3 separate regions of the Homo sapiens genome follow, and all the other regions are linked to region 2. Evidence: fine-mapped expression QTL. A gene starts in region 2. Each other region holds a variant in brackets. All regions are shown on one strand. Distances are between the middles of the regions. Region 1 overlaps ZZEF1 (zinc finger ZZ-type and EF-hand domain containing 1). Region 2 holds the start of ZZEF1 (zinc finger ZZ-type and EF-hand domain containing 1). Region 3 overlaps ZZEF1 (zinc finger ZZ-type and EF-hand domain containing 1).

What was found. PIP is the estimated chance that this variant, and not a neighbour inherited with it, causes the effect.
Region 1: its variant is the best candidate, but not a certain one, in a credible set for the expression of ZZEF1 in monocytes after Pam3CSK4 (Quach 2016, PIP 0.62).
Region 3: its variant is the best candidate, but not a certain one, in a credible set for the expression of ZZEF1 in thyroid (GTEx, PIP 0.58).

What each region holds. Positions count from the first base shown.
Region 1 is chr17:4,047,973-4,056,238 of GRCh38, forward strand. ZZEF1 (zinc finger ZZ-type and EF-hand domain containing 1) reads right to left here. Exons shown (of 55, transcript NM_015113.4): 33 at 8,244-8,266; 34 at 6,085-6,223; 35 at 3,999-4,164; 36 at 2,809-3,071; 37 at 1,736-1,887. Among named protein-coding and RNA genes, the nearest start is that of LINC01975, 75 kb to the left of the region's middle. The variant A/G (reference allele first, on the strand shown) is at 4,336.
Region 2 is chr17:4,139,555-4,147,820 of GRCh38, forward strand. It overlaps ZZEF1 (zinc finger ZZ-type and EF-hand domain containing 1), which reads right to left and starts at 3,476. Exons shown (of 55, transcript NM_015113.4): 1 at 2,988-3,476. The coding sequence starts at 3,341. CYB5D2 (cytochrome b5 domain containing 2) reads left to right here and starts at 3,643. Exons shown (of 4, transcript NM_144611.4): 1 at 3,643-4,451. The coding sequence starts at 4,202. RefSeq lists a silencer at 3,202-3,371 and enhancers at 3,237-3,788, 3,452-3,761, 3,789-4,341, 3,912-4,491.
Region 3 is chr17:4,090,675-4,098,940 of GRCh38, forward strand. ZZEF1 (zinc finger ZZ-type and EF-hand domain containing 1) reads right to left here. Exons shown (of 55, transcript NM_015113.4): 10 at 5,935-6,026; 11 at 5,157-5,305; 12 at 45-156. Among named protein-coding and RNA genes, the nearest start is that of ZZEF1, 48 kb to the right of the region's middle. The variant C/T (reference allele first, on the strand shown) is at 3,536.

The DNA.
Region 1 (8,266 bases), 92 kb before region 2:
CATTGAATTAAAAAAAACCCATAAAAAAACCCTATTAAGTCCATTCTGACATAAATAAAAGGATAAACGGGGAAGCACAGTGCTTATGGGTGGAAGGTTAGTTTTAAGATGCTGAGGGCTCACAAGAAGATACAAATATTCCCAGGCTCAAAGGTGAGGACTACTGATTAATCCCATTTCTCCTAACAATGTTCTCTTTGTTCCCATCATAATCCGTGGGTGGTTAAAGTGCCGCCTACAGAAGACGTTTCATGGAAAAAATGTGGACGGTTGAGAGACAGGCTTGATGATTATGTGGCCTGTCTTCTACTGACTCTCTGGCTGAATGGAAATAATAAAAATGTTGATGTTTCTGCTGGCCAGTTTTGCTTTTGTATTCCTCCACATGAGAATGGGACCTTGGTGAGCTACAACCACCAGATGGGGGAATCCTTGAACTAGCAACCTGACAGACAGAGGACAGCAACATCAGCGACCCCTGTGGCAGTCAAGGGCCTTTTCAGCAGAAACACAAGCTCTGGAGGCAGCATCATAGAAACAATGGCGTGCTCTTCCATAAAACAATCTTTAGTGCCACTATCACAGGTTATACCTGGATCCAGAATAGCTTTTCTGTTTATGCAACTATGTGTAAATTACTGCGTCTACCCGGTAAACAGTAAGCATCAGTAACACCTAACTGTTGACTGAATATAAATACAGCTACACCGATACAGTGTACACCATGGGCTAGGAATGACTTTTTTTTGGTTGTTTTTTTTGAGATGGAGTCTTGCTGTCGCCCAGTTTGGAGTGCAGTGGCGCCATCTTGGCTCACTGCAACCTCCGCCTCCCGGGTTCAAGCGATTCCCCTGCCTCTCGAGTAGCTGGGACTACAGGCACGTGACACCAGCCTGGATAATTTTTTTTTTTTTTTTTTGTATTTTTAGTAGAGACAGGGTTTCACCCTGTTGGCCAGGCTGGTCTTGAACATCTGACCTTGTGATCCGCCCACCTTGGCCTCCCAAAGTGCTGGGATTACAGGCCACTGTGCCTGGCCAATTAATTTCTTTAGGTGCACAATCTTGTTTAATTCTTATAAAAACTACCAGGAGACAGGTAATGGGAGTGGTTAACACAGATATGGAACTTACTATCAACTCTTCTAAGCACTTGACATACAGTAGCTCAAAGTACGTCATATATACAACTCCTCACAATAAGCCTATGTTACAAGTATATCATCATCCCCATTTTATAGATGAGAAAACTGAGGCAGGCTGGGTGCAGTGGCTCATGCCTGTAATCCCATCACTTTGGGAGGCCAAGGCCAGAAGATCACTTGAGCCCAGGAGTTCAAGACCACCCTGGGCAACATGGCGAAACCCTGTCTCTACAAAAAATACAAAAATTAGCCAGGCATGGTAGCACATGCCTGCGGCCCCAGGTACTCAGAAGGATGAAGTGGGAGGATCACTTCAGCCTGGGGAGGTCAAGGCTGCAGTGAGCCAAGATCACGCCACTGCACTCCAGCCTGGGTGACAGCGAGACCCTGTTTCAAAACAAAACAAAAGAAAATAAAACAAACACTGAAGAGATGATAACAACATGCCCAAGGTTTGATGGAGCAGGCATGTGAATCCAGCAGTCTGGGTTAGGAGTCTGTGCTCTTAACCTCTCTGCTATGCTGCACTGAGTGAATGGCTCTCTCTAGAGTTCAACCTGTGATTCTGTGTAGTAAAGAATCGTCATTTACATTGCCTGCTTCTGACAGCTCAGCACCCTGGACAGCTTTCTTCTCTAGCTGCTCCTCTGACGCTCCGGTGGGCACAGTGACTGGTAGGGCCTGATCTTCTAGGCTCGAGTCCCCATCTGGCAATACACCCAGCAAAGCTAGAGCTTTAAGGCCTATGTGGGAAGCAAATCAGAGAATGGTTAGAAGTTTTATAATGAGAGTTCTTTTCAGCAAGTGCCATAAGTTACTTTGCCATTATATAGAAATAAATAAATGAGTTCTGCACAAACCAAATCCTAGAGGACTCAACGTGAACATCCCTCGCTGTCTAAATCTACTCAGCTCCTCCTCTCAGATGGTGAGAGGCTGAATAGCAAGGGATACCTGCACTTTATACTTTATTAACAACAGAAGATAAAACATATAACAGGATTGTCTATTTAGAAAATAATCAACATTATACTTTTATACTAGCCCCACACAATCAGACTGCTCAATTCTCACTGGCAAACTGGTATGGGAACTGCTCTAAGGTGCTGGCGTTACCCATGTGCTATCTCATACAGGCCTGGTTCCCTAATGTTGACTAGAATGGGGATGCCATTATCTGAAGGAACTTAGATGTCTCCAAGGTTTAACTTTCAAGTTGCTTTCTTCCCACCACTCCTTAGTCGAGTCAGATTCATGTCGATATATTGCTAAACTATTTTACTCGTAAACAGCTCTCATCTAGAATACACTTGTGTGGAAGCAGATTTACACTCCAGGTTAAGAAGTCTGGATTCTTTCAGCAAAGTTTGGTAGATTCAAATACTAGACTGCATCCACAGATATAAAGAGTTTTAATTATTATTTAAAATTAGTTTGAGGTATTAATATTAGTTTCAGAGAAATTAAATGTTGAACTTCAATGCCAACATTTCTCTAAAATCCATCGGGGAACTTAAAAATTAAGTTCCACACCAGGGTAAGCCCCTTTTGTGGAAAAGTGGATGTTGCCACCTGTAAACTAAGCTTAGTATTTTACATTTGCCAAGGCTTTTTTTCACCAGCAACTGAGGGCTGGTTTTGGTTTCTGTGCATTGGGAAGTCACCTTTTCCCTGATGAGCCTTCATCAGACAGTCCCCGACGAGCTGCATGCACTGGCTCCGCAGGGTGGTGGCACTGCTGCGCGTCTGGGGGTCCAGCTTCTCCCCATCCACATCCTCTGCACTGGCCAGGTGGGCGCTATAGAGAGCCAGGGCAGCAAAGAGCAGCCAGGAGTAGTTATGGATATATGGCTGGATGAGCCTCTGCCGGTCACTGATCCGAATGGTTACCATTGGGTGGGCCGTGATGCTGTGGGTAGGCAAATGGCTGCAAAGGCAAGACACATTTAAAGCTTACAACCCTCCAAAAGCTTTTGTGGCTCCAAACAGGAGCACAGGGCCTTAGGAGAGCATGTGGTCGCAACTGGGCATTAGTCACCTCTAGGATGCGCTTACTGAAAATGTAAAGAAAGGTGTGGGCCCTCTCTCCAGAAAAATGAAGAAACACAAACACAGAACATGCCTTTCAGGGTTTCACAATCCCCAGAGGTTGTCTGCAGAAATTGGACTAAGGAAGAATTGCTTATTGTGATTTTGGAAGGTGTGGTAATAGCATTTTGGTAATGTGAATAAAACCCATAATTTTTAAAGGGGGGTATAAAGTATGTAGGAAGGAAATAATTTAAGGCCTGGAATTTGCTTTATTTATGTATTTATTTATTTGAGATGGAGTCTCGTTCTGTCGCTCAGGCTGGAGTGCAGTGGCGCAGTCTCAGCTCACTGCAACCTCCGCCTCCCAGGTTCAAGCGATTCTCATGCCTTAGCCTCCCAAGTAGCTGGGATTACAGGCACCCACCACCACACCCAGCTAATTTTTGTATTTTTAGTAGAGACGGGGTTTCTCCATGTTGGGCAGGCTGATCTCGAACTCCTGACCACAGGAGTTCGCCTCGGCCTCTGAAAGTGCTGGGATTACAGGCGTGAGCCACCGAGCCTGGTCCTGGAATTGGCTTTAAAATACTTTAACACAGGAAAAAAAAAAAAAAGCAATAAACTAAGCACACATTACAAAATCTTCCTAACTGCTGAACCTGGGTAATGGGTACATGAAGGTTCACTGTGTTAGTCTCTTTACTTTTGGTTATGTTTAAATTTTTAAATAAAAAAAACTTTTTTAAAAAAAGAAAGAAGTCCCTTTTCAAGTGAAGGAACGTGTAAATAAAAGGCTTGGTGGCGACGGTCACTTGAGACATACCCGTAGGAGTATTTCTTCGCTGCATAGCATCCGTAGCAAAGATCAAAGTCATCGCAAACATTGCAGTTCATCCTCCGGCCTATGATCAAACCCTGGCAGTGGTCACAGGTAAACTCCATGTTGACCATTTCATGGTCGTCTCCGTGGCCCTCAGGCTTCACCCCACCTGAGGAGAAACACAGCAGTGTGAGGGGATGAGGTAGAGGGCTCCTAGATGGGCTAGTTTCCAAACCCAAACCAACCCCAGCACCAGGGCCGTTCCCAAGTGACTGCTCAGGGATACAGGGCCCACAGGCGTTCTCTGGAGACAGGGTGCTCTGCCTGGGTGGCTCAAGGC[A/G]TATGAATGAGACTCTTGGCACAGAATTTCTCGGCAATGGTACAGTGAGATCAAATGCATTATCAGGACTGCTGTTTGGTGGAAACAAGTCCACATGTTAATTTGTGAGCTGTCTCCTATGACCCCTCCACTAACAAAGAGTAAGCTTCTGTTGATGTATTCCTGTTAACAAGCACTGAGGACTGATCAGGATATTTGCTCTTCCTTTTTCACTCCAGAATCACAGATGAAAACAGACTTCCAAAATAAAAAAATAAAAATTAAAAAATTAAAAAAGGGCCAGGCGTTGTGGCTCATGCCTGTAATCCCAGCACTTTGGGAGGCCGAGGCAGGCAGATCGCTTGAGTCTAAGAGTTCAAGACCAGCCTGGGCAATATGGTGAAACCTCGTCTCTATTGAAAATACAAAAATTAGCCACGTGTGGTGGCAGGCACCTGTACTCCCAGCTACTTGGGAGGCTGAAGCAGGAAAATCACTTTAACCCAGGAGGCAGAAGTTGCAGTGAGCTGAGATGGTGCCACTGTACTCTAGCCTGAGGGACAGAGTGAGACTTTGTCTCGGGAGGGCGGCGGGGGAGAAAAAACCAGACCCAGACCCAGTGAGTGAGAGAGAATAACAGTCAGGAAAGAGATGGGCTGCACTGGTCTCCTTCTCACTCTAAGGCCCTTGGGCCCTTCTCACTCTAAGCTCTGTCATGGACCCTAAAGAATGCTCCTCGCGCCTGGCCCACTTCTGTTCATTCTCACTGTCATGAACCCAGTCCAGGCTCCCATGCCTGTGTGAATACTGTGACTGATTTCCTAAAGGAGACTCTTAGCACTGACAGAACCACCTTCCTCTAGCATAGCTCTCATCATGTTATTAATAATACCTACTTCAAAAACCTTCCCTGCTGTCTCTAGACTATTCAAACTCCTTAGCCTAGTATCTTGGGGTCCCACAGTCGGGGGCCCCACCTGTCTTAATCCATCACTTAGTTGGGCAAACATTTCAGCATGGCCATCTAAAGTCACTACAGACACTCCTCTGTCCCAGGGTTTGCTATGCCCTTGATGGTGATACCATCCCCAACGTTTCCTACACATCATCCAGTTCTAACTTCCTTCAAAAACCAATTCTCATTCCACCTCCTTCACGAGCCTTCCCTGCAGCAATGCTGCTACTGCTTCTAAACTTTTCCAGAAACAATCTGTACCCTCCTTTATAACTCAGCACACACATTCTTGTACTGGAATAGACATTCTGTGGATCTGTCCAGTCCTCCTGCTGGACTGTAGATGGTTCCAGGGCAAGGGCTGTCTCTTACCACTGGGCCATGCACAAAAAGGCCAGTCAGGTGTGCACTACTGTGCATCTGTTTTACCTCAGCACCTAGAAGTCAAGTGTACGAGGATTTTTGAAGCTTGCTTGTGTATGTGTGCGTGTGTATTTTGCTACATGTAAACACTGCATGATTCAGAAGCAAACACTATTTCCTGAAAACTCCACTGAACATACATACACTGGTCCCGAGTGTTTATTATGTGGCTACACCCAGCATGATAGAAGAAGGAAGCACGACAGATATTAGGGCTGTGGAGCTTTTCATTTAGTTGAGGAGATAAGGCTCATGTTCGCCAAGAAGTCAGAGAAAATACCACTGGGCAGTACTTTGATTTAGTACACTGAGAGTTTTTAAAAATGACAAGATCATAGAAATCAGAAGTGATATTGCCTTTGGATACGGCGTACCCAGTTCATGAAATTTACCTAGGAAGCAAGTTTTGCAGAGATCCATGTCGCTGCACTGCAGACAGCGGTATCGATGCCAGGGGGCAATCTCATCACACCCATCACAAGAGATGTCCACATTTAACAGGTCACAGTAGCGAGCAATGAACATGTGCATCTGTAAGGCCAAACATATACAATTAACTGATAGATTTTCTAAGGTGGCCACAATTCACTAATCAATTCCTCCATTCACTAGGTACTGAAGATGTTCCAGGCATTGTACTAAGTGCTAGGATTTGATAATGAATAAGCTCCTCAGTGTCTAGTTGGGAATTCCATCAAGGAGGTGATGACCATTTAGTATGACCAGTGCTTTCACAGGAAATTGCAGGAGGCTTAGAGGACAGAGGACTATGGCTACCAATGGGTATTCAGAAGGTCAAAGAAGGTTTTCCAAAGGAGATAATTCCTCAGGTGAGACCCAAAGGACAAACAGGTACTAGACGGGTCGGGGTAAGGGAGGTGGGCATGTCAGATAGAAATAGCAAATTTGACAGACAGCAAAAAGGGGATGAGAGACAGGTTTATGAAACTGGCATGACTCAGTGCGTCGAATACAGTACAGAGGGGAAGAGTCAGATGAAGAGAGAAAGGTTAAACCACAAAGGGCCTTGCATATCAGTCTTAGGAGTTACAGATTGTTTTTAGAGAGAAGAGTAATGTGATCGGACTGGAGTGCTCTTCTGGAAGTTGAGGAAAGAATGGATCAAAGGGGCAAGCCTGGACTCAGTGAGACTGACCATGACCAAAGCGTTAAAGGAACCCCATGGCACATTATAAGGGCTGGGACTGAGTAGTAGGCGGGATGGTGAAAGGTGCGTAGATTTGAGGTGTTGAGGCAGAAGTGGGAAACCTTGGTGACCGACTGGATATAGGGATCAGTAAAAGGGAAGAAAGTTTCTGGCTTGGGTACGTGGTTGGACGATGGTAGTGTTCACAGATACAGGAAACACTGCAAAAGGAGTACTGTCCCTGGCACTTACAGGCAAACTTTCTGCAGGGATAGTCTGGGTACTGTCTAATGAGCAAACAAATTGCTTTACTGGAAAGTACTTGGACTACAGTATTGTTTCTCTTTAGGGCCTGGAAATGAGGGATCTAAATCAGTAAGTCATACAGTAGACCAGAGCAAATATGCCAAGTCACCTTACAACTACAGAACTCCCAAAAGGTATTAACATATGCGAGAGAAAAAGCCACAAAGGCCCACTTGGCAAGCTCCATCCAAGCACCACAGTGGTGCTACGTGAACAAAGTGGTTGGCACATAGTAGGCACTCGATACTTAGAAAATGAATGAATCTGAGGCAGCAGATGCTTGGCACATGTGGTAGCGATGGATTTAACACCTGACGTGGAGATGGACACAGTGGGCTATCTGAGCCTGAGCCTTTGCACATCTGAATCATGCAGCTCTGATGCCCTCTCTATACATAACGGCTGCTCCCATGCTCACCAGGCAGCCTTCTGATGGAAACGTGGCTTCCCACACTGCTTGTCTACAGGAAGAGAATGTGCTGCTCCAAGGACACTAGAGCCCAGGCCCTCCAGCAATTCTATTTCTCACTGTAAATTAGTAAACTGGCACCTCATATTGTACATCAGCTTTAAGAGCCAATTTTTCAATGAGTCTAGTTCTACGGCAGGGAGCCACTCTGAGTGTAGTCAAATCAGGATTTATAGCCCCTCAGGTTAAAGGTTAAACACCAGACGCTAGGGCAGCAGTCCCCCTTTTTGGCACCAGGGACCAATTTCGTAGAAGACAATTTCTGCACAGGACTGGGTGGGGGATGGTTTCGGGATGAAACTGTTCCACCTCAGATCATCAGTCATTAGACTCTCATAAGCAGCGCACAAACTAGATGCCTCGCATGCGCGGTTTATTGTGGGCTCATGCTCCCGTGAAAATCCAATGCCGCAGCTGATCGGACAGGAGGCGGAGCTCAGCCTCCCTCGCTTGCCTGCTGCTCACAGCCTGCATTCGGTCGCATTCAGCGGTTGGGGACCCCTTCACTAGGGTATTGAATGCCACCTGCAGCCCTCTCAGGTAAGAGCCTGCCAGAACCCCCCCAGGCAAACTCTCCTCTCCAAACTCCTAGCAAATCACTTCAGAGTACTCTAGTTGAGAGGTCTTACTTTCCTCTGCTTCTCTGGATCTT
Region 2 (8,266 bases):
TATGCACAAAAGTATATACTTATTCAAGTCTAAGGATAGACATTCTTAAAGCACAGAATCAAATGCATGGCTAAATCTTATCTTCTTTGGCTAGTCCTAACTTACTAGTTCTTACAGACAGAGCAGCCATCACAAGATTATCATGAGAGACGGTGGCCACTGTGAGATTATCACAATCAGGTTTTTAAACCTTGGCTAAGCCTCACTCACAGAACTGTATGACCTAGCTATGTGAATCAAAGACTGCCAAATATAACTCAATGTTTTCTCTCCCCTTCCTCAATAATTAAGCCCTGAGTTTTAGCTGAATATATGGCCACGGAAAAAGAATCTTTCCCAGCCTGTCCTGCAGGTAACTGCGGCCATGTGACTGAATTTTGGCCTGTGGGATGTAAGCTATGCCCGTAAGAGAGTGGGCATGGCTTCTTCCTTCTCCTTCCCTTTTCCCTTTCTTGCTTGTTGGAATGTGGAAAATGACAGCAGGAGTCAACAGAATTACTAAGTGGAAGATGTCCGTGGAGGATGACAGCACAAGATGGACGAAGCCAGGTCCCTGATGATGACAACACTGCCACATCAATCTTGGACTGCCTACCTGGACATTTTCATAAGGAAGCAGCTTCTTTTTATGTTTAAACCACTGATGCATTAGGTTTTCTGTCCCTTGAAAAAGTTTTGTGTATCCCTAATACACCACACCAGACTTCTTCCAGATTCTCTGGACTTTGAACTTTTGTGGATACAATTTCCTCTGCCTGAAACGCTGTTACTACCTCCTGTAACACTATCTGCTTTCACCATTCACCTGTGGGCTGAAATGTTACCTTCTCAGGTAAGTCTTGCTTGAGCCCCAAGTGAGGTTAAATACACTTGCTATTTATTCCTTATACCTTCCCCCTCGGTTAACACTCACCATATCTTATAATTAATGGGTTAATACCTGTCTCTTCCACCACAACTACATACTCTTTAAGAGCAAGTATCTGCTTTGTCCACTGTCATCCAAGTGAGTGGCACTCGATATACGCCCAATAAACATTTGCTCAGTGAACAATAATGCCACAACCCCTGAGTGATTTCTGGACCACACCTCAAGTATTTCTTGACCTTCTATTAAGGGACTCCTATGAACTCTACATAAAGTTCTATTTCTGTCAGAAACTCTCAGAATGTAAACGGTGTTTCTCTCCATTTGCCTTTGCTCAAATCTGCAAAGTGCCATCTCCTTCAACAGTTCTGCATGGTTCTTCCCACTACTACTTCATATTCTCATAATACGCGTAGATACTAGAAAGAAGGTACTATGTGTATTCCTGGGGGGAAAAAAAAAGGAGATCTTTCACTAACTAATATGACTTTTTTTTTTTTTTTTGAGACAGAGTATCGCTCTGAGGCCCAGGCTGGAATGCAGTGGCGTGATCTCAGCTCACTGCAACCTCCGCCTCCTGGGTTCAAGCGGTTGTCCCACCTCAGCCTCCCAAGTAGCTGGGATTACAGGCACCCGCCACCATGCCCAGCTAATTTTTGTATTTTTAGTAGAGGTGGGGTTTCACCACGTTGGCCAGGCTGGTCTTGAATTCCTGACCTCAGATGATCCTCCCGCCTCAGCCTCCCAAAGTGCTGGGATTACAGGCGTGAGCCACTGCGCCCAGCCATGACTATTATTTTTAAGGGTTGGGATGCCTTAAAGGTACTTTTTTCATAAGAAACACACAAACTACATTATCTGAATTCTGGCCATGTACAGGAAGACATTCTTAAAATATTTTAAAAGCCTCTGATTTTAAGGTGAACAGAACCTTTTAAAGGCACTGCAAGTACCCGCTGGTTTACTGCTTTATGTACACACCCTTCGTGGCCACTGAAGATTCTACATGACTGGCTAACTCATTTTCACAAAATAAGTACCTTTTTGGTCATACCGTGGTGTTAAAAGAAATAGGATCCCAGGAAGGAGGTAGTGAGACATTAAAAACAAAAAATAGGGTGCGGGTGGAGGGAGAGAGAGCATCAGGAAGAATACCTAATGGATGCTGGGCTTAATACCTGGGTGATGGGATGCTGTGTGGAGTAAACCACCATGGCACACGTTTACCTATGTAATACATCTGCAAATCCAAATCCTGCACATGTACGCCTGAATTTAAAATAAAAGTTGAAAGAAAGAAAAAAAAAAAAAGCAAGAGATCTAGTTGATAGTCTGTTTTACTAATGATTCACTGGGTAACCCTGGATCAGTCTTCTTAACTCGAAGTGAAGCGCCCAGTAAATAAACTCCCAAAATGCCTTCCAAGGAAAATATTTTGTTGCCAAATCAATTTGCTCTCTTAATGACTTAGCAGACATGATCTTGGTGATTATATGAAGAACTGCATAATTACAAGTATTCACAGGAAACCTGGTATTTGCCTATCAGTTTCGGATCCTATGAAGGTTTAAATGAGTCTAATATATGGTTCTTTAAGGATCTACAAACCAGTATGTATTTTAGAAAAGCTAGTTTTTGCATGAGGAGGATAGGTTTTAGAATGTGAGCCTTTCCAGCATGTTACTACTGTCTTTCCACACTTATTCGGCGCCCACACTGAATTGGGAAGGTGCTGTGTAAAAACCTGGACAGGACAATACAAAAAATGGTTCTCAGCGCCACTCCTCCTATCCTTACATCTCTTTTCTCTCCAAACTGTTCGAGAATCTGATAGAAGATCTCCAGAGTAGCGTCAATCAACTGCACAAAGGTCTGCATTACAACATACAGAGAGAGACATATGGGCTTGTCCAGCTCTTCAGAGCAAGGACGGCCTGATGCAGACTTTCCAGACCTCTAACATAGGTTAAAGAGAAACGAAGCAAACGCCTGGTGAAAAGCTGGAAACACCTCATATGGGTCCCCGCCTGGCCTCTCCAAAGCAAATGCCCACCTCTTCCTTCAGTCCCCTGGGGGCGACCGCCCTGCCCCATCCCCGCAGTCGCCTGCCGGCCCTGACCTCCTCGAACTGCTCGCTAGAGCAGCCGGCGCCGCGAGCCTCCAGCAGCTCCCGGAACTGCTCCAGAGTGACAGACTCTTCGCCGCGGCCCAGCCGCTCTTCCAGCCAGCGAAACAACGCGCCGCGATGCCTCGACACCAGCGACTCGCAGGGGGGTGTGGGCAGCAACGCTGCAGCAGCCTCTCGCAGCCTGGCCGGCTCCAGCAGCGCCGCGGCGGGTGGTAGCGCTGGAGCCGCGACGCCCGGGCCGGGGGTCGTGCCCGAGACCGCGGCCCAGTCCTGGTGTGGGCCCCAGCCCTCGCCACCGGCAGCTGCCGCTTCGTCTTCACTGCTGTGACTCGGAGCGTTCCCCATGGGGTCTCCGTCTTGGGCGCCTGGCTCTGCAGCCGCCGCCGCCGCCTCCCCGCCTCGACCTGTCAACCTCCGACAGCAGCTGGCGGGCGGGGACGCGGAGGAGACGACGGCGGCCCCTGCGGCTTCCGGCTTCCTGGCCGTCAAGCGACGACCGCTGTCGCAAAGGCGCCGTCACGTAGATAGGCGGCCTCTACCAACTCACGACAGCTAGGCGGGGAGCGCCGCCTCAAAGGGTGCAACCTTGATTTCCCAGAGGACGAGTCTGTCTCAGTATCTACGTCATTCCGTAGCCTCCGCTGCCGCCATCTTTGTTGGGGCTGACAACCTGCAAGCCAAGAAGTACGAGAAGGGCCAGGCGCGGTGGCTCACGCCTGTAATCCCAGCACTTTGGGAGGCCGAGACGGGTGGATCACCTGAGGTCAGGAGTTCGAGACCAGCCTGACCAACGTGGTGAAACCCTGTCTCTACTAAATACAAAATATTAGCCGGACGTGGGGGCGCGTGCCTGTAATCCCAGCTACTTGGGAGGCTGAGGCAGGAGAATCGCTTGAACCCGGGAGGCGGAGGTTGCAGTGAGCCGAGATTCCGCCAGTGCACTCCAGCCTGGACAACAAGAGCTAAAACTCTGTCTCAGAAAAAAAAAAAAAAAGTACCTGGAAAAAGTCGCAGACAGCGAGCTTTTCGCCAGTGCCAGGAATACAGATAAAACGAGAGAGACTAAGGGAGGGAGCGCGAGCACTAGCGCGCGAGAGAGAGAGCGAGAGCGCGCGCGCCGATGACGTCACGCTCGGCGTCTCGGCCATCTTAGCTGTAGATAGAGGCGGCAACCTCGGAAGTGCGGAGCGGGTGGGCCTATATAGATGTTGAGGTGCGGAGGCCGTGGGCTTTTGTTGGGCCTGGCTGTAGCCGCAGCAGCGGTAATGGCAGCACGGCTTATGGGCTGGTGGGGTCCCCGCGCTGGCTTTCGCCTTTTCATACCGGAGGAGCTGTCTCGCTACCGCGGCGGCCCAGGGGACCCGGGCCTGTACTTGGCGTTGCTCGGCCGTGTCTACGATGTGTCCTCCGGCCGGAGGCACTACGAGCCTGGGTCCCACTATAGCGGCTTCGCAGGTATCAGCGAGGCTGCTCACGCCTTTCTCTCCGCTGGCGCGAGCCAGTAGCCACCTGCGCGTCGTTCGTTGGTTCATTATTCATCTATTTCCCCCCCCATCCCCACCCCACATCCATCAAACCCGTGCGGTGGGCGGGACGAGCTGCATGCACTATCCTTCTAGGCTCTCTGGCTCTGGCGGGACTGTGGGCCAGCTCTGTCATCCACCACCGCCCTGCGTGACTTACATTGGAGAAACATGTCTTCTGTCTCTTGTTACCCATTACCCAGCGTCGGAAGCCCTAGGATACGGGCTGTGTGCCGGACTTTTGTGGGGGCTCTTAGGGCACAGATAAACGAGATCCCGCCCCGCCCCTACCCTCACAGTTTCCTTAATAATTCCAACCATCTCTTCATTATGCCCTGGTCCCAAATAATCTTTCTTCCCCCCACCCCTAAGCATAGTGTTTTCAAGGTTCATCCATGGTTTATGAGCATGCATCAATACTTTATTCCTTTATGGCCCGTCATATAGTACATTTGGTCTGAGTCATTCCTGCTTCTAGTACAAGATGCACCTGTTTGCCTTCCTTAGAAGGTTAGGGCAGAGGAAAGGGGTCCAGTCACCTTTACAGTCCTTGATACGTAGACCAAAGTTGTGCATATGTTAGGCCTCAAGAAACATTTGTCAAATTAAGTTTATGCTGGTGTCCCTGTGTTACAGCTGAGGGGGTTAAAGGATGCGATTTGCCTGAAACCCTCACACCTGAATACTGACAGAATATGGACTCGGACCACCAGTCTAGTGCTTTTTTTTTAAAGATGGAATCTCGCTGTGTCGCCCAGGCTGGAGTGCAGTGGCCTGATCTCGGCTCACTGCAAGCTCTGCCTCCCGGGTTCACGCCATTCTCCTGTCTCAGCCTCCCGAATAGCTGGGACTACAGGCGCCCACCACCACGCCCGGCTAATTTGTTGAATTTTTAGTAGAGACGGGGTTTCACCATGTTAGCCAGGATGGTCTCGATCTCCTGACCTTATGATCCGCCCACCTTGGCCTCCCAAAGTGCTGGGATTACAGGCGTGAGCCACCACACCCGGCCAGCCTAGTGCTTTTTTACAGATGTTGCCTTGCCAGCCAGCGGGACTGACCTCCAAAATTTAAAAAGAAAAAAAAAGTGCAGGGCAAGCCTAAGATCAGCTACTAGGCTGACATTAAATAAGCATTTTCCACTTGTCATTATCTTAGGGGAATTGGGAAGCTGCCTCTAGCACTTAAAATACAAGCCACTTCCCTCTGTCTAGGAAGTACTAAAGAAATACAAAAGTTGACAGAAAAGGAATGAAGTCCAGTTGGTCTCGCAAATCCCCTGAGATAGTCCAGCAGGGGAAGGGACTTACTCAGGGGTACACAGTGAGTTAGAAGCAGAGCTGGGACTGGAATCAAGGTGTTTTGTCGCTGCTAGTTGAAGGCAGTTTTCGTTGCGCTGCCCTGCTGCGTGCTGTGGGAGCTGTCGTTGGATGTTTGCACAAGTGTGGGCATAAAACCTTCGATGTCTGGAGTGCTTTTTATTTTTCAGTGTGCTCTGCTGTTTACTGAGCTCCCGTGTTCTGGTATTCATTGACCATCTTTATTTACCACTACCTACCTTGTGTCAGGGGCTGTGGAATCCAAGATGTCTGCAACATGCTCCCCACCGCCCACACAGTCTAGTTGGGAAGCAGTTATGTCCACGTATTCGTTCATTCAGTATTTTATTTCTCATTGAGATGTAATTCACGTGATGTAAAGTCCTTTTAACGTATACAATTCAGTGGGGTTTTTTGTTGTTTAGAGACAGGGTCTGCCTCTGTCACCCAGGCTGGCGTGCAGTGGCATGATCTTGGCTCACTGCAACCTCCGCCTCCCAAGCTCAAGCAATCCTTCCACTTCAGCCTCCCAAGTAGCGGGGACCATAGGTGTGCACCATCACGTGCAGCTAATTTTTGTATTTTTTGTAGAGATGGGTTTTCGCCATGTTGGCCAGGCCGGTCTTGAACTCCTGAGCTCAAGTGATTCAGCCGCTGAAAGTGTTGGGATTACAGGTGTGAGCCACTGCCCCCAACCTTTTTATTTATTTATTTTTATTTTTCGAGATAAACTGGTTCTTTAGCCCAGGCTGGAGTGCGGTGGCGCAATCTTGGCTTACTGCAACCTCTGCCTCCCGGGTTCAATATTCTTGTGCCCCAGCCTCCCGAGGAGCTAGGATTACAGGCGTGTGCCACCATGTCTGGCTAATTTTTTTTATTTTTAATAGAGATGGGGTTTTGCCATGTTGGCCAGGCTGGACAGGAAATCCTGGCCTCATGTGATCCACCTGCCTAGGTCTCACACAGTGCTGGGATTATAGGTATGAGCCAAAATTCAGTGTTTTTTTTGTTTTTTTGAGATGGAGTCTCACTCTGTCGCCCAGGCTAGAGTGCAGTGGCGCAATCTTGGCTCACTGCAAGCTCCGCCTCCTGAGTTCATGCCATTTTCCTGCCTCAGCCTCCCGAGTAGCTGGGACTACAGGCGTCCACCACCACACCTGGCTAAGTTTTTGTATTTTTAGTAGAGACGGGGTTTCACTGTGTTAGCCAGGATGGTCTCGATCTCCTGACCTCGTGATCTGCCTACCTCAGCCTCCCAAAGTGCTGGGATTACAGGCCTGAGCCACCGCGCCTGGCCCGGTGGGTTTTTTTTTTTAGTATAGCCAGAAATTTGTAAAAATGTCACCACTAACTCTAGAACATTCTTCTCACCCCAGAAAGAAACTTCTTATCTATTAGCAGTCACTCCTTATTCCTTCCTTTGCCAACCACTATCTACTTTCTTTTCCTGTCGATTGGCCTATTGTGGGCATTTCATGGAGTCATACGTGTGGCCTTTTGTGTCTGGCTTCTTTCACCTAGCATCATGTTTTAAGGGTTCATCCATGGTGTACCAGCATGTAGCAGTGCATTATTCCTTTATGGCTGAAAATATTCTATAGATACTATAATTCTAATAATATGGATATACCACATTTTATCTATCAGTTGATGGATTTTTGGTTTCTTTCTACTTTTTTTGCCTGTTATAAATAATGCCACTATGTACATTCATGTACAAATGTTTGTGTGAGCTGGGCACAGTGGTCCATGCCCGTAGTCTCAGCTACTTGGGAGTTGGAGACAGAAGAATCCCTTGAACCGAGGAGGCAGAGGTTGCAGTGAGCCAAGATCGCACCACTGCACTCCAGCCTGGGCGATACAGCGAGACTCTATCTCAAAAAAGAAAAAAACTATGTATTTAATTCGTTTGATATTTACTGGGAATTTACTAAAGATCAGGCACTGTACCAGACACTGGGGAATCCATAGTAAATGAGTTTGGTGTGTTGTCTTACCTGATAAAACTTACTAGTAGAAAAGACAGACATTAAATAGATATTAAATAGATATTACACAATTAATGTATTATTTTTGTGAAAAGTGTTAAAAGGAAAAGTACTGGTGTTACCAGAGGCTGTAACCGATTTGAAGAGGAGGAGAGGAAGGGAGCAAAGTGAACAATAAAGAACGTGGCAGTGGCCAGGTGTGGTGGCTCACGCCTGTAATCCCAGCACTTTGGGAGGCCAAGGTGGGCCGATCACCTGAGTTTGGGAGTTCGAAACCAGCCTGACTAACATGGAGAAACCCCATCTCTACTAAAAATACAAAATTAGCCGGGCATGGTGGCGCATGCCTGTAATCCCAGCTACTCAGGAGACTGAGGCAGGAGAATTGCTTGAACCTGGGAGGCAGAGGTTGCGGTGAGCCGAGATTGTGCCATTGCACT
Region 3 (8,266 bases), 49 kb before region 2:
AGAATAAAAGGAGGGGAGTGGGCAAACGACGCACTAATGCTTACTTTGGCAACTCTGCACTGTTGCAGCTTCACATCTGCTTCATCCCATTCTTCTTCCAGTTCAAACCAGCCAATAGGATCATCCTCTCCAAGGTCATCAGATGAGCAACCAATCCTGTAAAGACAAGAGTATTCACAAAACATTTTATTTTGAAACTTCTCAAGGGTCTAACAAATAAGGTATCATCTAAGTGACATGTAACTTGTATCTGTAGCCTGTCAGTGAACAATCGAGAGCTGACTATGGTACATGGTACCCTGTGAGCACATGAGACAGTTGGTAGTATTGCCTTTCCATTGCTCAGTCTCCTTCTCTATGAACTGGGAAATATAATCTGGGAACTAAGGAGAAAGTTTGCTTCTCTAATTGGCTCATCTGAAGAATGAGACAGAAAGTCGGGCATTGTGGATGACTCAGGAGTAAGGTCCAATGCAACAGCTGGCATGTGCTTCTGGAAAGTGCCAGAAAAGAGGCAGGCTTGGTTTTCTTTCCCTAGGTCTGGCTAACATGTTTATGACCAACCTGAGGTTTGGGCCACTTGCAATAGCTGATGGGTAAACATCTGAGGGCTTTCAGATCCTGGAGGTCCAAAAAAACAAAAACCCCAGCCTTCGTAGGCCTCAGTATTCTTGTCTGTTTCTTAAGAAGTTCTTTCAGAAAAACATTCCAGCCTTGAGGCTGAAGAGATGTCTTCTCTTCTTTTTAAGAGAATGTATGCCACTTCTTTTTAAAAGCTGAACACTTAAATGCTACTCCCTTTTCAGGAATTAAGTAACTAAGATGTGCTGGGCACGATGGCTCACACCTATAAGCACTTTAGGAGGTTGAGGTGGATGGATCACTTGAGGTCAGGAGTTTGAGACCAGCCTGGTAAACATGGCGAACCCTGTCTCTACTAAACATACAAAAAATTAGCCAGGCGTGGTGGTGCACACCTGTAATCTCAGCTACTCAGGAGGCTGAGGCAGGGGAATCACTTGAACCCAAGAGGTGGAGGTTGCAGTGAACTGAGATCACGCCATTGCACTCCAGCCTGGGTGACAGAGCAAGGCTCCATCTCAAAAAAATATAAAAATAAGGCCGGGCACGGTGGCTCACACCTGTAATCCCAGCACTTTGGGAGGCTGAGGCAGGCAGAGCACCTGAGGTCAGGAATTCGAGACCAGCCTGACCAACATTAAGAAACTCTGTCTCTACTAAAAATACAAAATTAGCCAGGCGTGGTGGTGCATGCCTGTAATCCCAGCTACTCGGGAGGCTCAGGCAGGGGAATTGCTTGAACCCAGGAGGCGGAGGTTGCGGTGAGCCAAGATCGTGCCACTGCACTCCAGCCTGGGCAACAAGAGCGAAACTCCACCTCAAAAAAAAAAAAAATAATAAAAATAATATAAATAAATAAGAAGGAGAAAAAGAGCAGTTTTTTCAAGTAACATTCCTAAAACTTTACACTATTCAGTCTGTGATATATAGCCACCAAGCTGGCGACACATTAGTATTTTATATAGGTAAAACTACCAAAAAGAGGGAATTATGGCAAGAAGACAATCCCGAGTAGGTTCTGTAACAGAGAGAAAACATGTCCCTTTTTTTTTTTTTTTTTGAGATGGAGTCTTGCTCTGTCGCCCAGGCTGCAATGCAGTGGCACAATCTTGGCTCACTGCAACCTCCACCTCCCAGGTTCAAAAGATTCACCTGCCTCAGCTTCCCAAGCAGCTGGGATTACAGGTGCCTGCCACCACACCTGGCTAATTTTTTTGTATTTTTAGTATAGATGGGGTTTCACCATCTTGGCCAGGCTGGTTTCTGACCTCAAGTCCTGACCTCAAGTGATCCACCCGCCTCGGCCTTCCAAAGTGCGCTAGGATTACAGGTGTGAGCCACTGTGCCCGGCAAAATGTCCCTTCTTAACATAAGTCTTTCTTGGCATAAACCTTTCATGACACAGTTAACCCTAATGGGAAACGGTATTCTCTTAAGCCAAAACCATGTCAATGAGTTTCATCAATATCATAAGCTTAAAGATTTTTTAATCTACTCTTTGGGAGTTGTCAAGGAAATCTTCGAGATACAGAAAGCTGGCAGGGTATCAGAGAACAGAGAGAAGCAATCTTGTTCCCTACACTGCACTACATAGTAGGCAAGATGGAAGACAGATGAATCCTAGTCCTCTGACGTAGGCACAGCACCAACTGCTGACCCTGGAGCATGCTGACTGACGAACGCCTGACCAGGAGGACATGACCAAAAAAAAAAAAAAGGCAAAAAGAAAATGCATGCACATTAATATTTTGATTTCCAAACTGGAGAGGGACTGGTGAATATGTAGGCCAACAAAATCACGATTTAAGAGTCATTCAGGCTGGAATCAGGAGCTAAAATCATTAAGGGAGTGGTGAATAGGCCTCTATTTAGGTTAAAAAAAAATCATCCTGTATAAGATGTAAAAGACCTTGTTTAACAGCAGGTTTAGGGGAAATGACCCATTTTAATTTGTCCCAAGAGTAGGACATAGCTGCCTAAAACCCAGTGTCATCTCTAGTTATTACTTTAAAAGAAAAGCAGTGTTTAAAAAGGCATACACGTGTAACGGAAGGGAGATTTTAGGAGTGAAAGACATTTGTTCAAATTCATTAAAGGGCTGAAACGAAGACCACTGAAGAGACATTACAAATGTGGATTTCAACTGAACAAATTCTGATTACTGAAGTGCCTGATACGTGGTGAGTTTTCCATCAACGGTATTGTAGAGAGGCTGACCGAACCTTTGCCAGGAATGCTGCTAAAGGAATTGCAGCAAGAAGAGCGAATTATTCGAATTATTCTAGATCCTTACGATTTCAAGTATGGTCCACAGACAGGTAGCATCAGAATCTCCCGAGAGCCTGTAAGAAATCAGTCTCAGACCCCACCCAGAGCTCCTGAATCAGAATGTGCATTTTCACAAATTCCCTGGCTGATGTGTATGCACACTAAAGCTCAAGGAGTACTGCAGTGGATGGTACTGAAAGGCTTCTATTAACACCAGCAATCCACTACCCATGAAATAATGCAGGCAAGTTCAGGGTTTCAGCTCCTTGAGTATTTTTTTTTCTTGTCTTAGCTTCTTCAATTTTAACTCACTAGTAGCAATAGGGGAGGTAACCTTATCCAAGGGGGCACCAGTGGCTACATCCGACAGATCCACTTTTAGACTTTACCTTCTGACTTCTGGGTAACATCTGACACCATCGCCCATTCCCTCAAACATTATTTTCCCTTGGCTTCATGGGACACAGCTTTCCTTCATGAGGCCCTGGCTTTCCTGCTGCTTGTCTGGCTGAGTTTTCCTTGTTGCCCCTTAAAGCCTGGTGTGTCTCATGTTGACCTAAGTTCTCTTCTCTTCCCAGTTCACACACTCTTGCAGAATGATCTCTTCCACTTCTACATTTTATTTATTTATTTTTGAGGCAGGATCTCACTCTGTCACCCAGGCAGGAGTGCAGTGGCGTGAAGA[C/T]AGTTCACTGCAGCCTCAACCTCCGGGGCTCAAGGGATCCTCCCGCCTCAGTCTTCCAAGTAGCTGGGACTACAGGCGCGTGATACCATGGCCAGCTAATTTTTATGTTTTTCTTTTTTTTTTAGAGATGGGGGTCTCACTATGTTGCTCAGGCTGGTCTCAATCCCCTGGGCTCAAAATCCACCTATCTTGGCCTACCAAAATGCTGGGATTACATGCATGAGCCACCACACTTGGCCTATTTCTACATTTTAAATTATCGTTTAAATGCCTCTCATATCTGTACCTTCAGCACAAACTTCTCTTCCTGGCTCCTGACCTGTTTATCCATTGGCTACCGATTATCCATTGGCTACCGAACACCTCAAAGGTTTCTCAGAACTTCAAATTCAACAGAACAAAATCTGAGCTCATCATCTTCCCCACAAACCTGTTTTTCCCCAGAGTAAGAAAGGCACTACCAATTTCCCCACCTGCTCAAGCCAAAAGCCAGGATTCACTGCCGATGAGGCTTTTTTCCCTCTCCTGCTCCACATTCAGTCAATCACCAGGTCCTGTCGCTTCTCCCTCCTAGTGGTCTCTTGGTCCACATCTCTGCACTGCTGCTGCTGCTCTAGTAGGAGTCACCCACTGGCTTCCTAGGCAATAAGTGACAACCTCCTCCCAGCCCAGCTGCCTCCAGACTTGCTCTCCTCCAGTCCATACTACACACAACATGATCCTGACCAGTGCTTCTACAACATGCATTTGAGCCCCCTGCTTTTCTGGAAATGCCTCAACACATTCCCCTGCCATTTCCCCTCACATGATGCTTTAAGGATACAGAAACAGAGACAAAGCCCTGAATGCCCTGCCCTTTCCCAGCTCTCCAGCTGCATCTCTCATCACCCTCCCTCCGAGTATCCCTCAGCAATGCGGGACCTGCCCGTTCCTTCAATGTGCCATGCTTCACCTCTGGGCCCATGAAGCTGCCCTCTCTGCTTAGGACATTCTCCTTCCAGTGGCCGATCAACTCCAACTCATCCTTCATAAACAGCATAACAACACTTGCTCCAGAAAGATGTCTCTGATCAGGAGGGCCGCTCTGCCCTGTGTCCCCACAGCGCCCTTTCTCCCCTACAGCACATTCATAACACTGTTGATACTGCAAGTTTTCTTACCTGTCTTCTGAGCTAAACAGTAAGCTATATAAAGCAAGAACTGTGCCAATTTCCTCATTACGGTATCTTCAGCACCTAGCATCAGGCCTGGCACACAGTAGGTACTTAATAAGTATTTGTGTTAAAAGCAGGAATGGGAGAAGGGGGGTTGGGGCAATGGCTAAAGACTGCAGGCTGTCCACAATTCAGGCATAGATAGATCATTACCCAGCCATTGTGAAGATGTGTGCCCCTGGCCACAAAAGGGACTGAGTAACATGCTATGAACAAATTAACATACACATCTTCAGATATGCTACTAGAAAGCAATGAAGGCTTATGGCCACTGAGATGGATTAGTGGCGCCTTTTCTATAAAGACAAGCAAGCACAGTTCACCAATGAGCATGAATACATTCTTATTAACTACAAAGATTTTTGTTCTGTAGATCTTTGTTCTACAAAGATTTTTTACCTTCTTACCTGCTTTTTACAAATTGCCTGAGCTCCTGAAGCTTCCATTTGTCATATTTTTCAAACCTTTTGAAGTGTTCTTCCGCACAAAATTTATCTGAAGATGAGTTATAGGCAAACACCAACCCACACTGGGCACCAATGCCACCACGTCGAACCTGGAAACAGAGATTAGGATGAAGTCTATCAAAGGGGCAAAAGTTCTGTGGCCGTTTTGTTTCCAGCATGGTTAAATTCAAACAGGTTAAAACAAAACGAGACCAATGAAAAATATTTCAAACATATTAAGCCCTCAAAAAATAAGAAAGCTGTTTCCCAAGAAATGTTCCTTAACTTTCTCAATCCTTATATTCTCACCATTTCAAAGACTTTACAGTCTATCCATCTTTGTGTCCCTGCCCTCTGCTACAGGCCTGACACAGAGTAAATCATCATTAAATGTTCAATGAATAACCAATGACATGGTCAGCCATAGGTCTGACTTTAAAAAAAAAAACCAAAACACCAATGACGTGGACTTCTGAAATGTAATAAAAGGTAATATTCAATAATAACCTAATTGTACATGGAAAAGTAACTACAACAGTGTAATGGATTGTTTATAACACAAAGACTAAATGCCTGAGGGGATGAATAGCTCATCCTCATCCTCTGTATGATTATTTCACATTGCATGCCTGTATCAAAACACCTCATGTACCCCACAAATATATATACCTACTATGTACCCATAAAAATTGAAAACAAAAGTAGTAACATTGCTTAAAGAAGGTAGCACGAAAATTACCATAATTCTTATCTGTGTAACTTGGAAGGCAGATTCAGTTCCGGTAGAAAAAATAGTGCTGGCTCTGGTTTTTCCAGTTTCCGTAAGAAAACCTGAAAAAAGGGAAAACTCAAGTTAGGGAACTAACCCATTTTTATAGCCCTAAGAACTAAGATCAACAAAAACAAACCATATCCTTTGAGTCATGGGGGGTAACTGGTCTGATATCTTCACGAAAATTAGAGAAAAATGTCCTCTTTGGACAGAGGCAACCCCGATGATAAAGCCCCAGGTAAGCAGAGAACTGACCAGGTTCAACTTTCCCAGGGCACAATCCCCTCCACCTCACAGGCAGCCCTGCTCTGAGGTAACAATAAGAAAATAAATGTTTAGGCCGGGCACAGTGGCTCACGTCTGTAATCCCAGCACTTTGGGAGGCCGAGGCGGGTGGATCACGAGATCAGGAGACGGAGACCATCCTGGCTAACACGGAGAAACCCCGTCTCTACTAAAAATACAAAAAATTATCCAGGTGTGGTGGCGGGCGCCTGTAGTCCCACCTACTCGGGAGGCTGAGACAGGAGAATGGCGTGAACCCGGGAGGCGGAGCTTGGAGATTGTGCCACTGCACTCCAGCCTGGGCAACAGAGTGAAACTCCGTCTCAAAAAAAAAAAAGAAAAAGAAAAAGAAAAAGAAAAGAAATGTTTATAAAACATTTAAGCCAAAGCGACAAAAGACTGGACAATCAATCATCTTCCTGAGCCACACCTACAACCATGGCTGATGGCTGCCTGGGCTGATAAAGCCTACTGGCTTAGTGGCTGAGAAAGGGATTAGTTAGCTTCTACAACACTTTGTCAGGAAAGGTTATGAAAGGCTTTGAAATGGGAAAAAAAAAAAAAAAAAAAAAAAAGAATCACTGGGTGTCCTAGCCAACATACCCTTTCGGTCGTCTCTGCCTTTTATGGTCTCTAAACTATTTTACAATTCTGTAAGTTGTAGAACACTGGTAGTGATGCACATGATTCTTGTCCACAGAACTAAACACTGTGTTCTGTGGAAATGTTGCTGATTATTCCTTATGGATACTGACCAACATTCTATCTATTTGTAAATTAATTTTAGCATTCTTGTTAGTCTACATGTATTTTATGAATTCTCCTTAGAACTGTTTGTAACATCTTACTGGTTCCCTCATTAATTAATGAGCTAAATAAAAAGTCTGGGCCAGGCACAGTAGCTCATGCCTGTAATCCCAGCACTTTGGGAGGCTGAGGCCAGTGGATCACTTGAGCCTCAAAACCAGCCTGGGCAGCACAGTGAGACCCCATTTCTACCAAAAAAAAAAAAAAAAAAAGCAAAAATCAAGGTGGGTGTGGTGGCTCACACCTATAATCCCAGCACTTTGGGAGGCTGAGGCAGGCAGTTCACTTAAGGTCAGGAGTTCGAGACGAGCCTGGCCAACATGGTGAAAACCCCATCTTTACTAAAAACACAAAATTCGCCGGGCGTGGTGGCACACACCTGTAATCCCAGCTACTCAGGAGGATGAGACAGGAGAATCGCTTGAACCCGGGAGGCGGAGGATGCAGTAAGCTGAGATCTCACCATTGCACTCCAGCCGGCCTGGGTGACAGAGTGAGACTCCAACTCAAAAAAAAAAAAAAAAAAAAATCAGCTGGGCACGGTGGTGCACACCTGCAATCCTAGCTACTTGGGAGGCCAGGGTGGGAGGATCGCTTGAGCCTGGGAGGTGGAGGTTGCAGTGAGCTATCATCACAACACTTCACTCCAGTCTGGGCAGTAGAGTGAGACCCTGTCTCAAATGAATGAATGAATGAATAAATAAATTAAAGTAAATAAATTAAAAGTATGAATGTGTTCACTTATATTTGTATGACAGTCACTATTTTCCTTTTTTGATTGTTGGTAATTATCCTTTAACAACTCATGAAAAAGTCTTCTGCTAGACCCAAGGTTGCCTTTCTCTTTCAAACGTCTCTAAATGATATAACTCAGCAATAAATAAGCTTTTTTTTCTGGGACTCTGAATTTTCTTAACAATTCTGCCTATCAAAATGACAAGACTAAAACCAATTTCATGCTTCCTGTTTCATTACATGGAGTTCAAGCCAACAAAAATTTATAAAGACAATGTGCAAAATGAGTCACCAAAACTAAGAAAATTAAATCCAAAGGAAACTTCTCTAATTCACACAGACGCTCTATGATCTAGTTCTATGAAAGAGCAATTCTATAGGCAATTTTAAGAATCCATACTACCAACAATTCACACAACTCCACTAACAGTAATACTAAGAACTATCCCAATTATTGAACTCTTACCTTTTC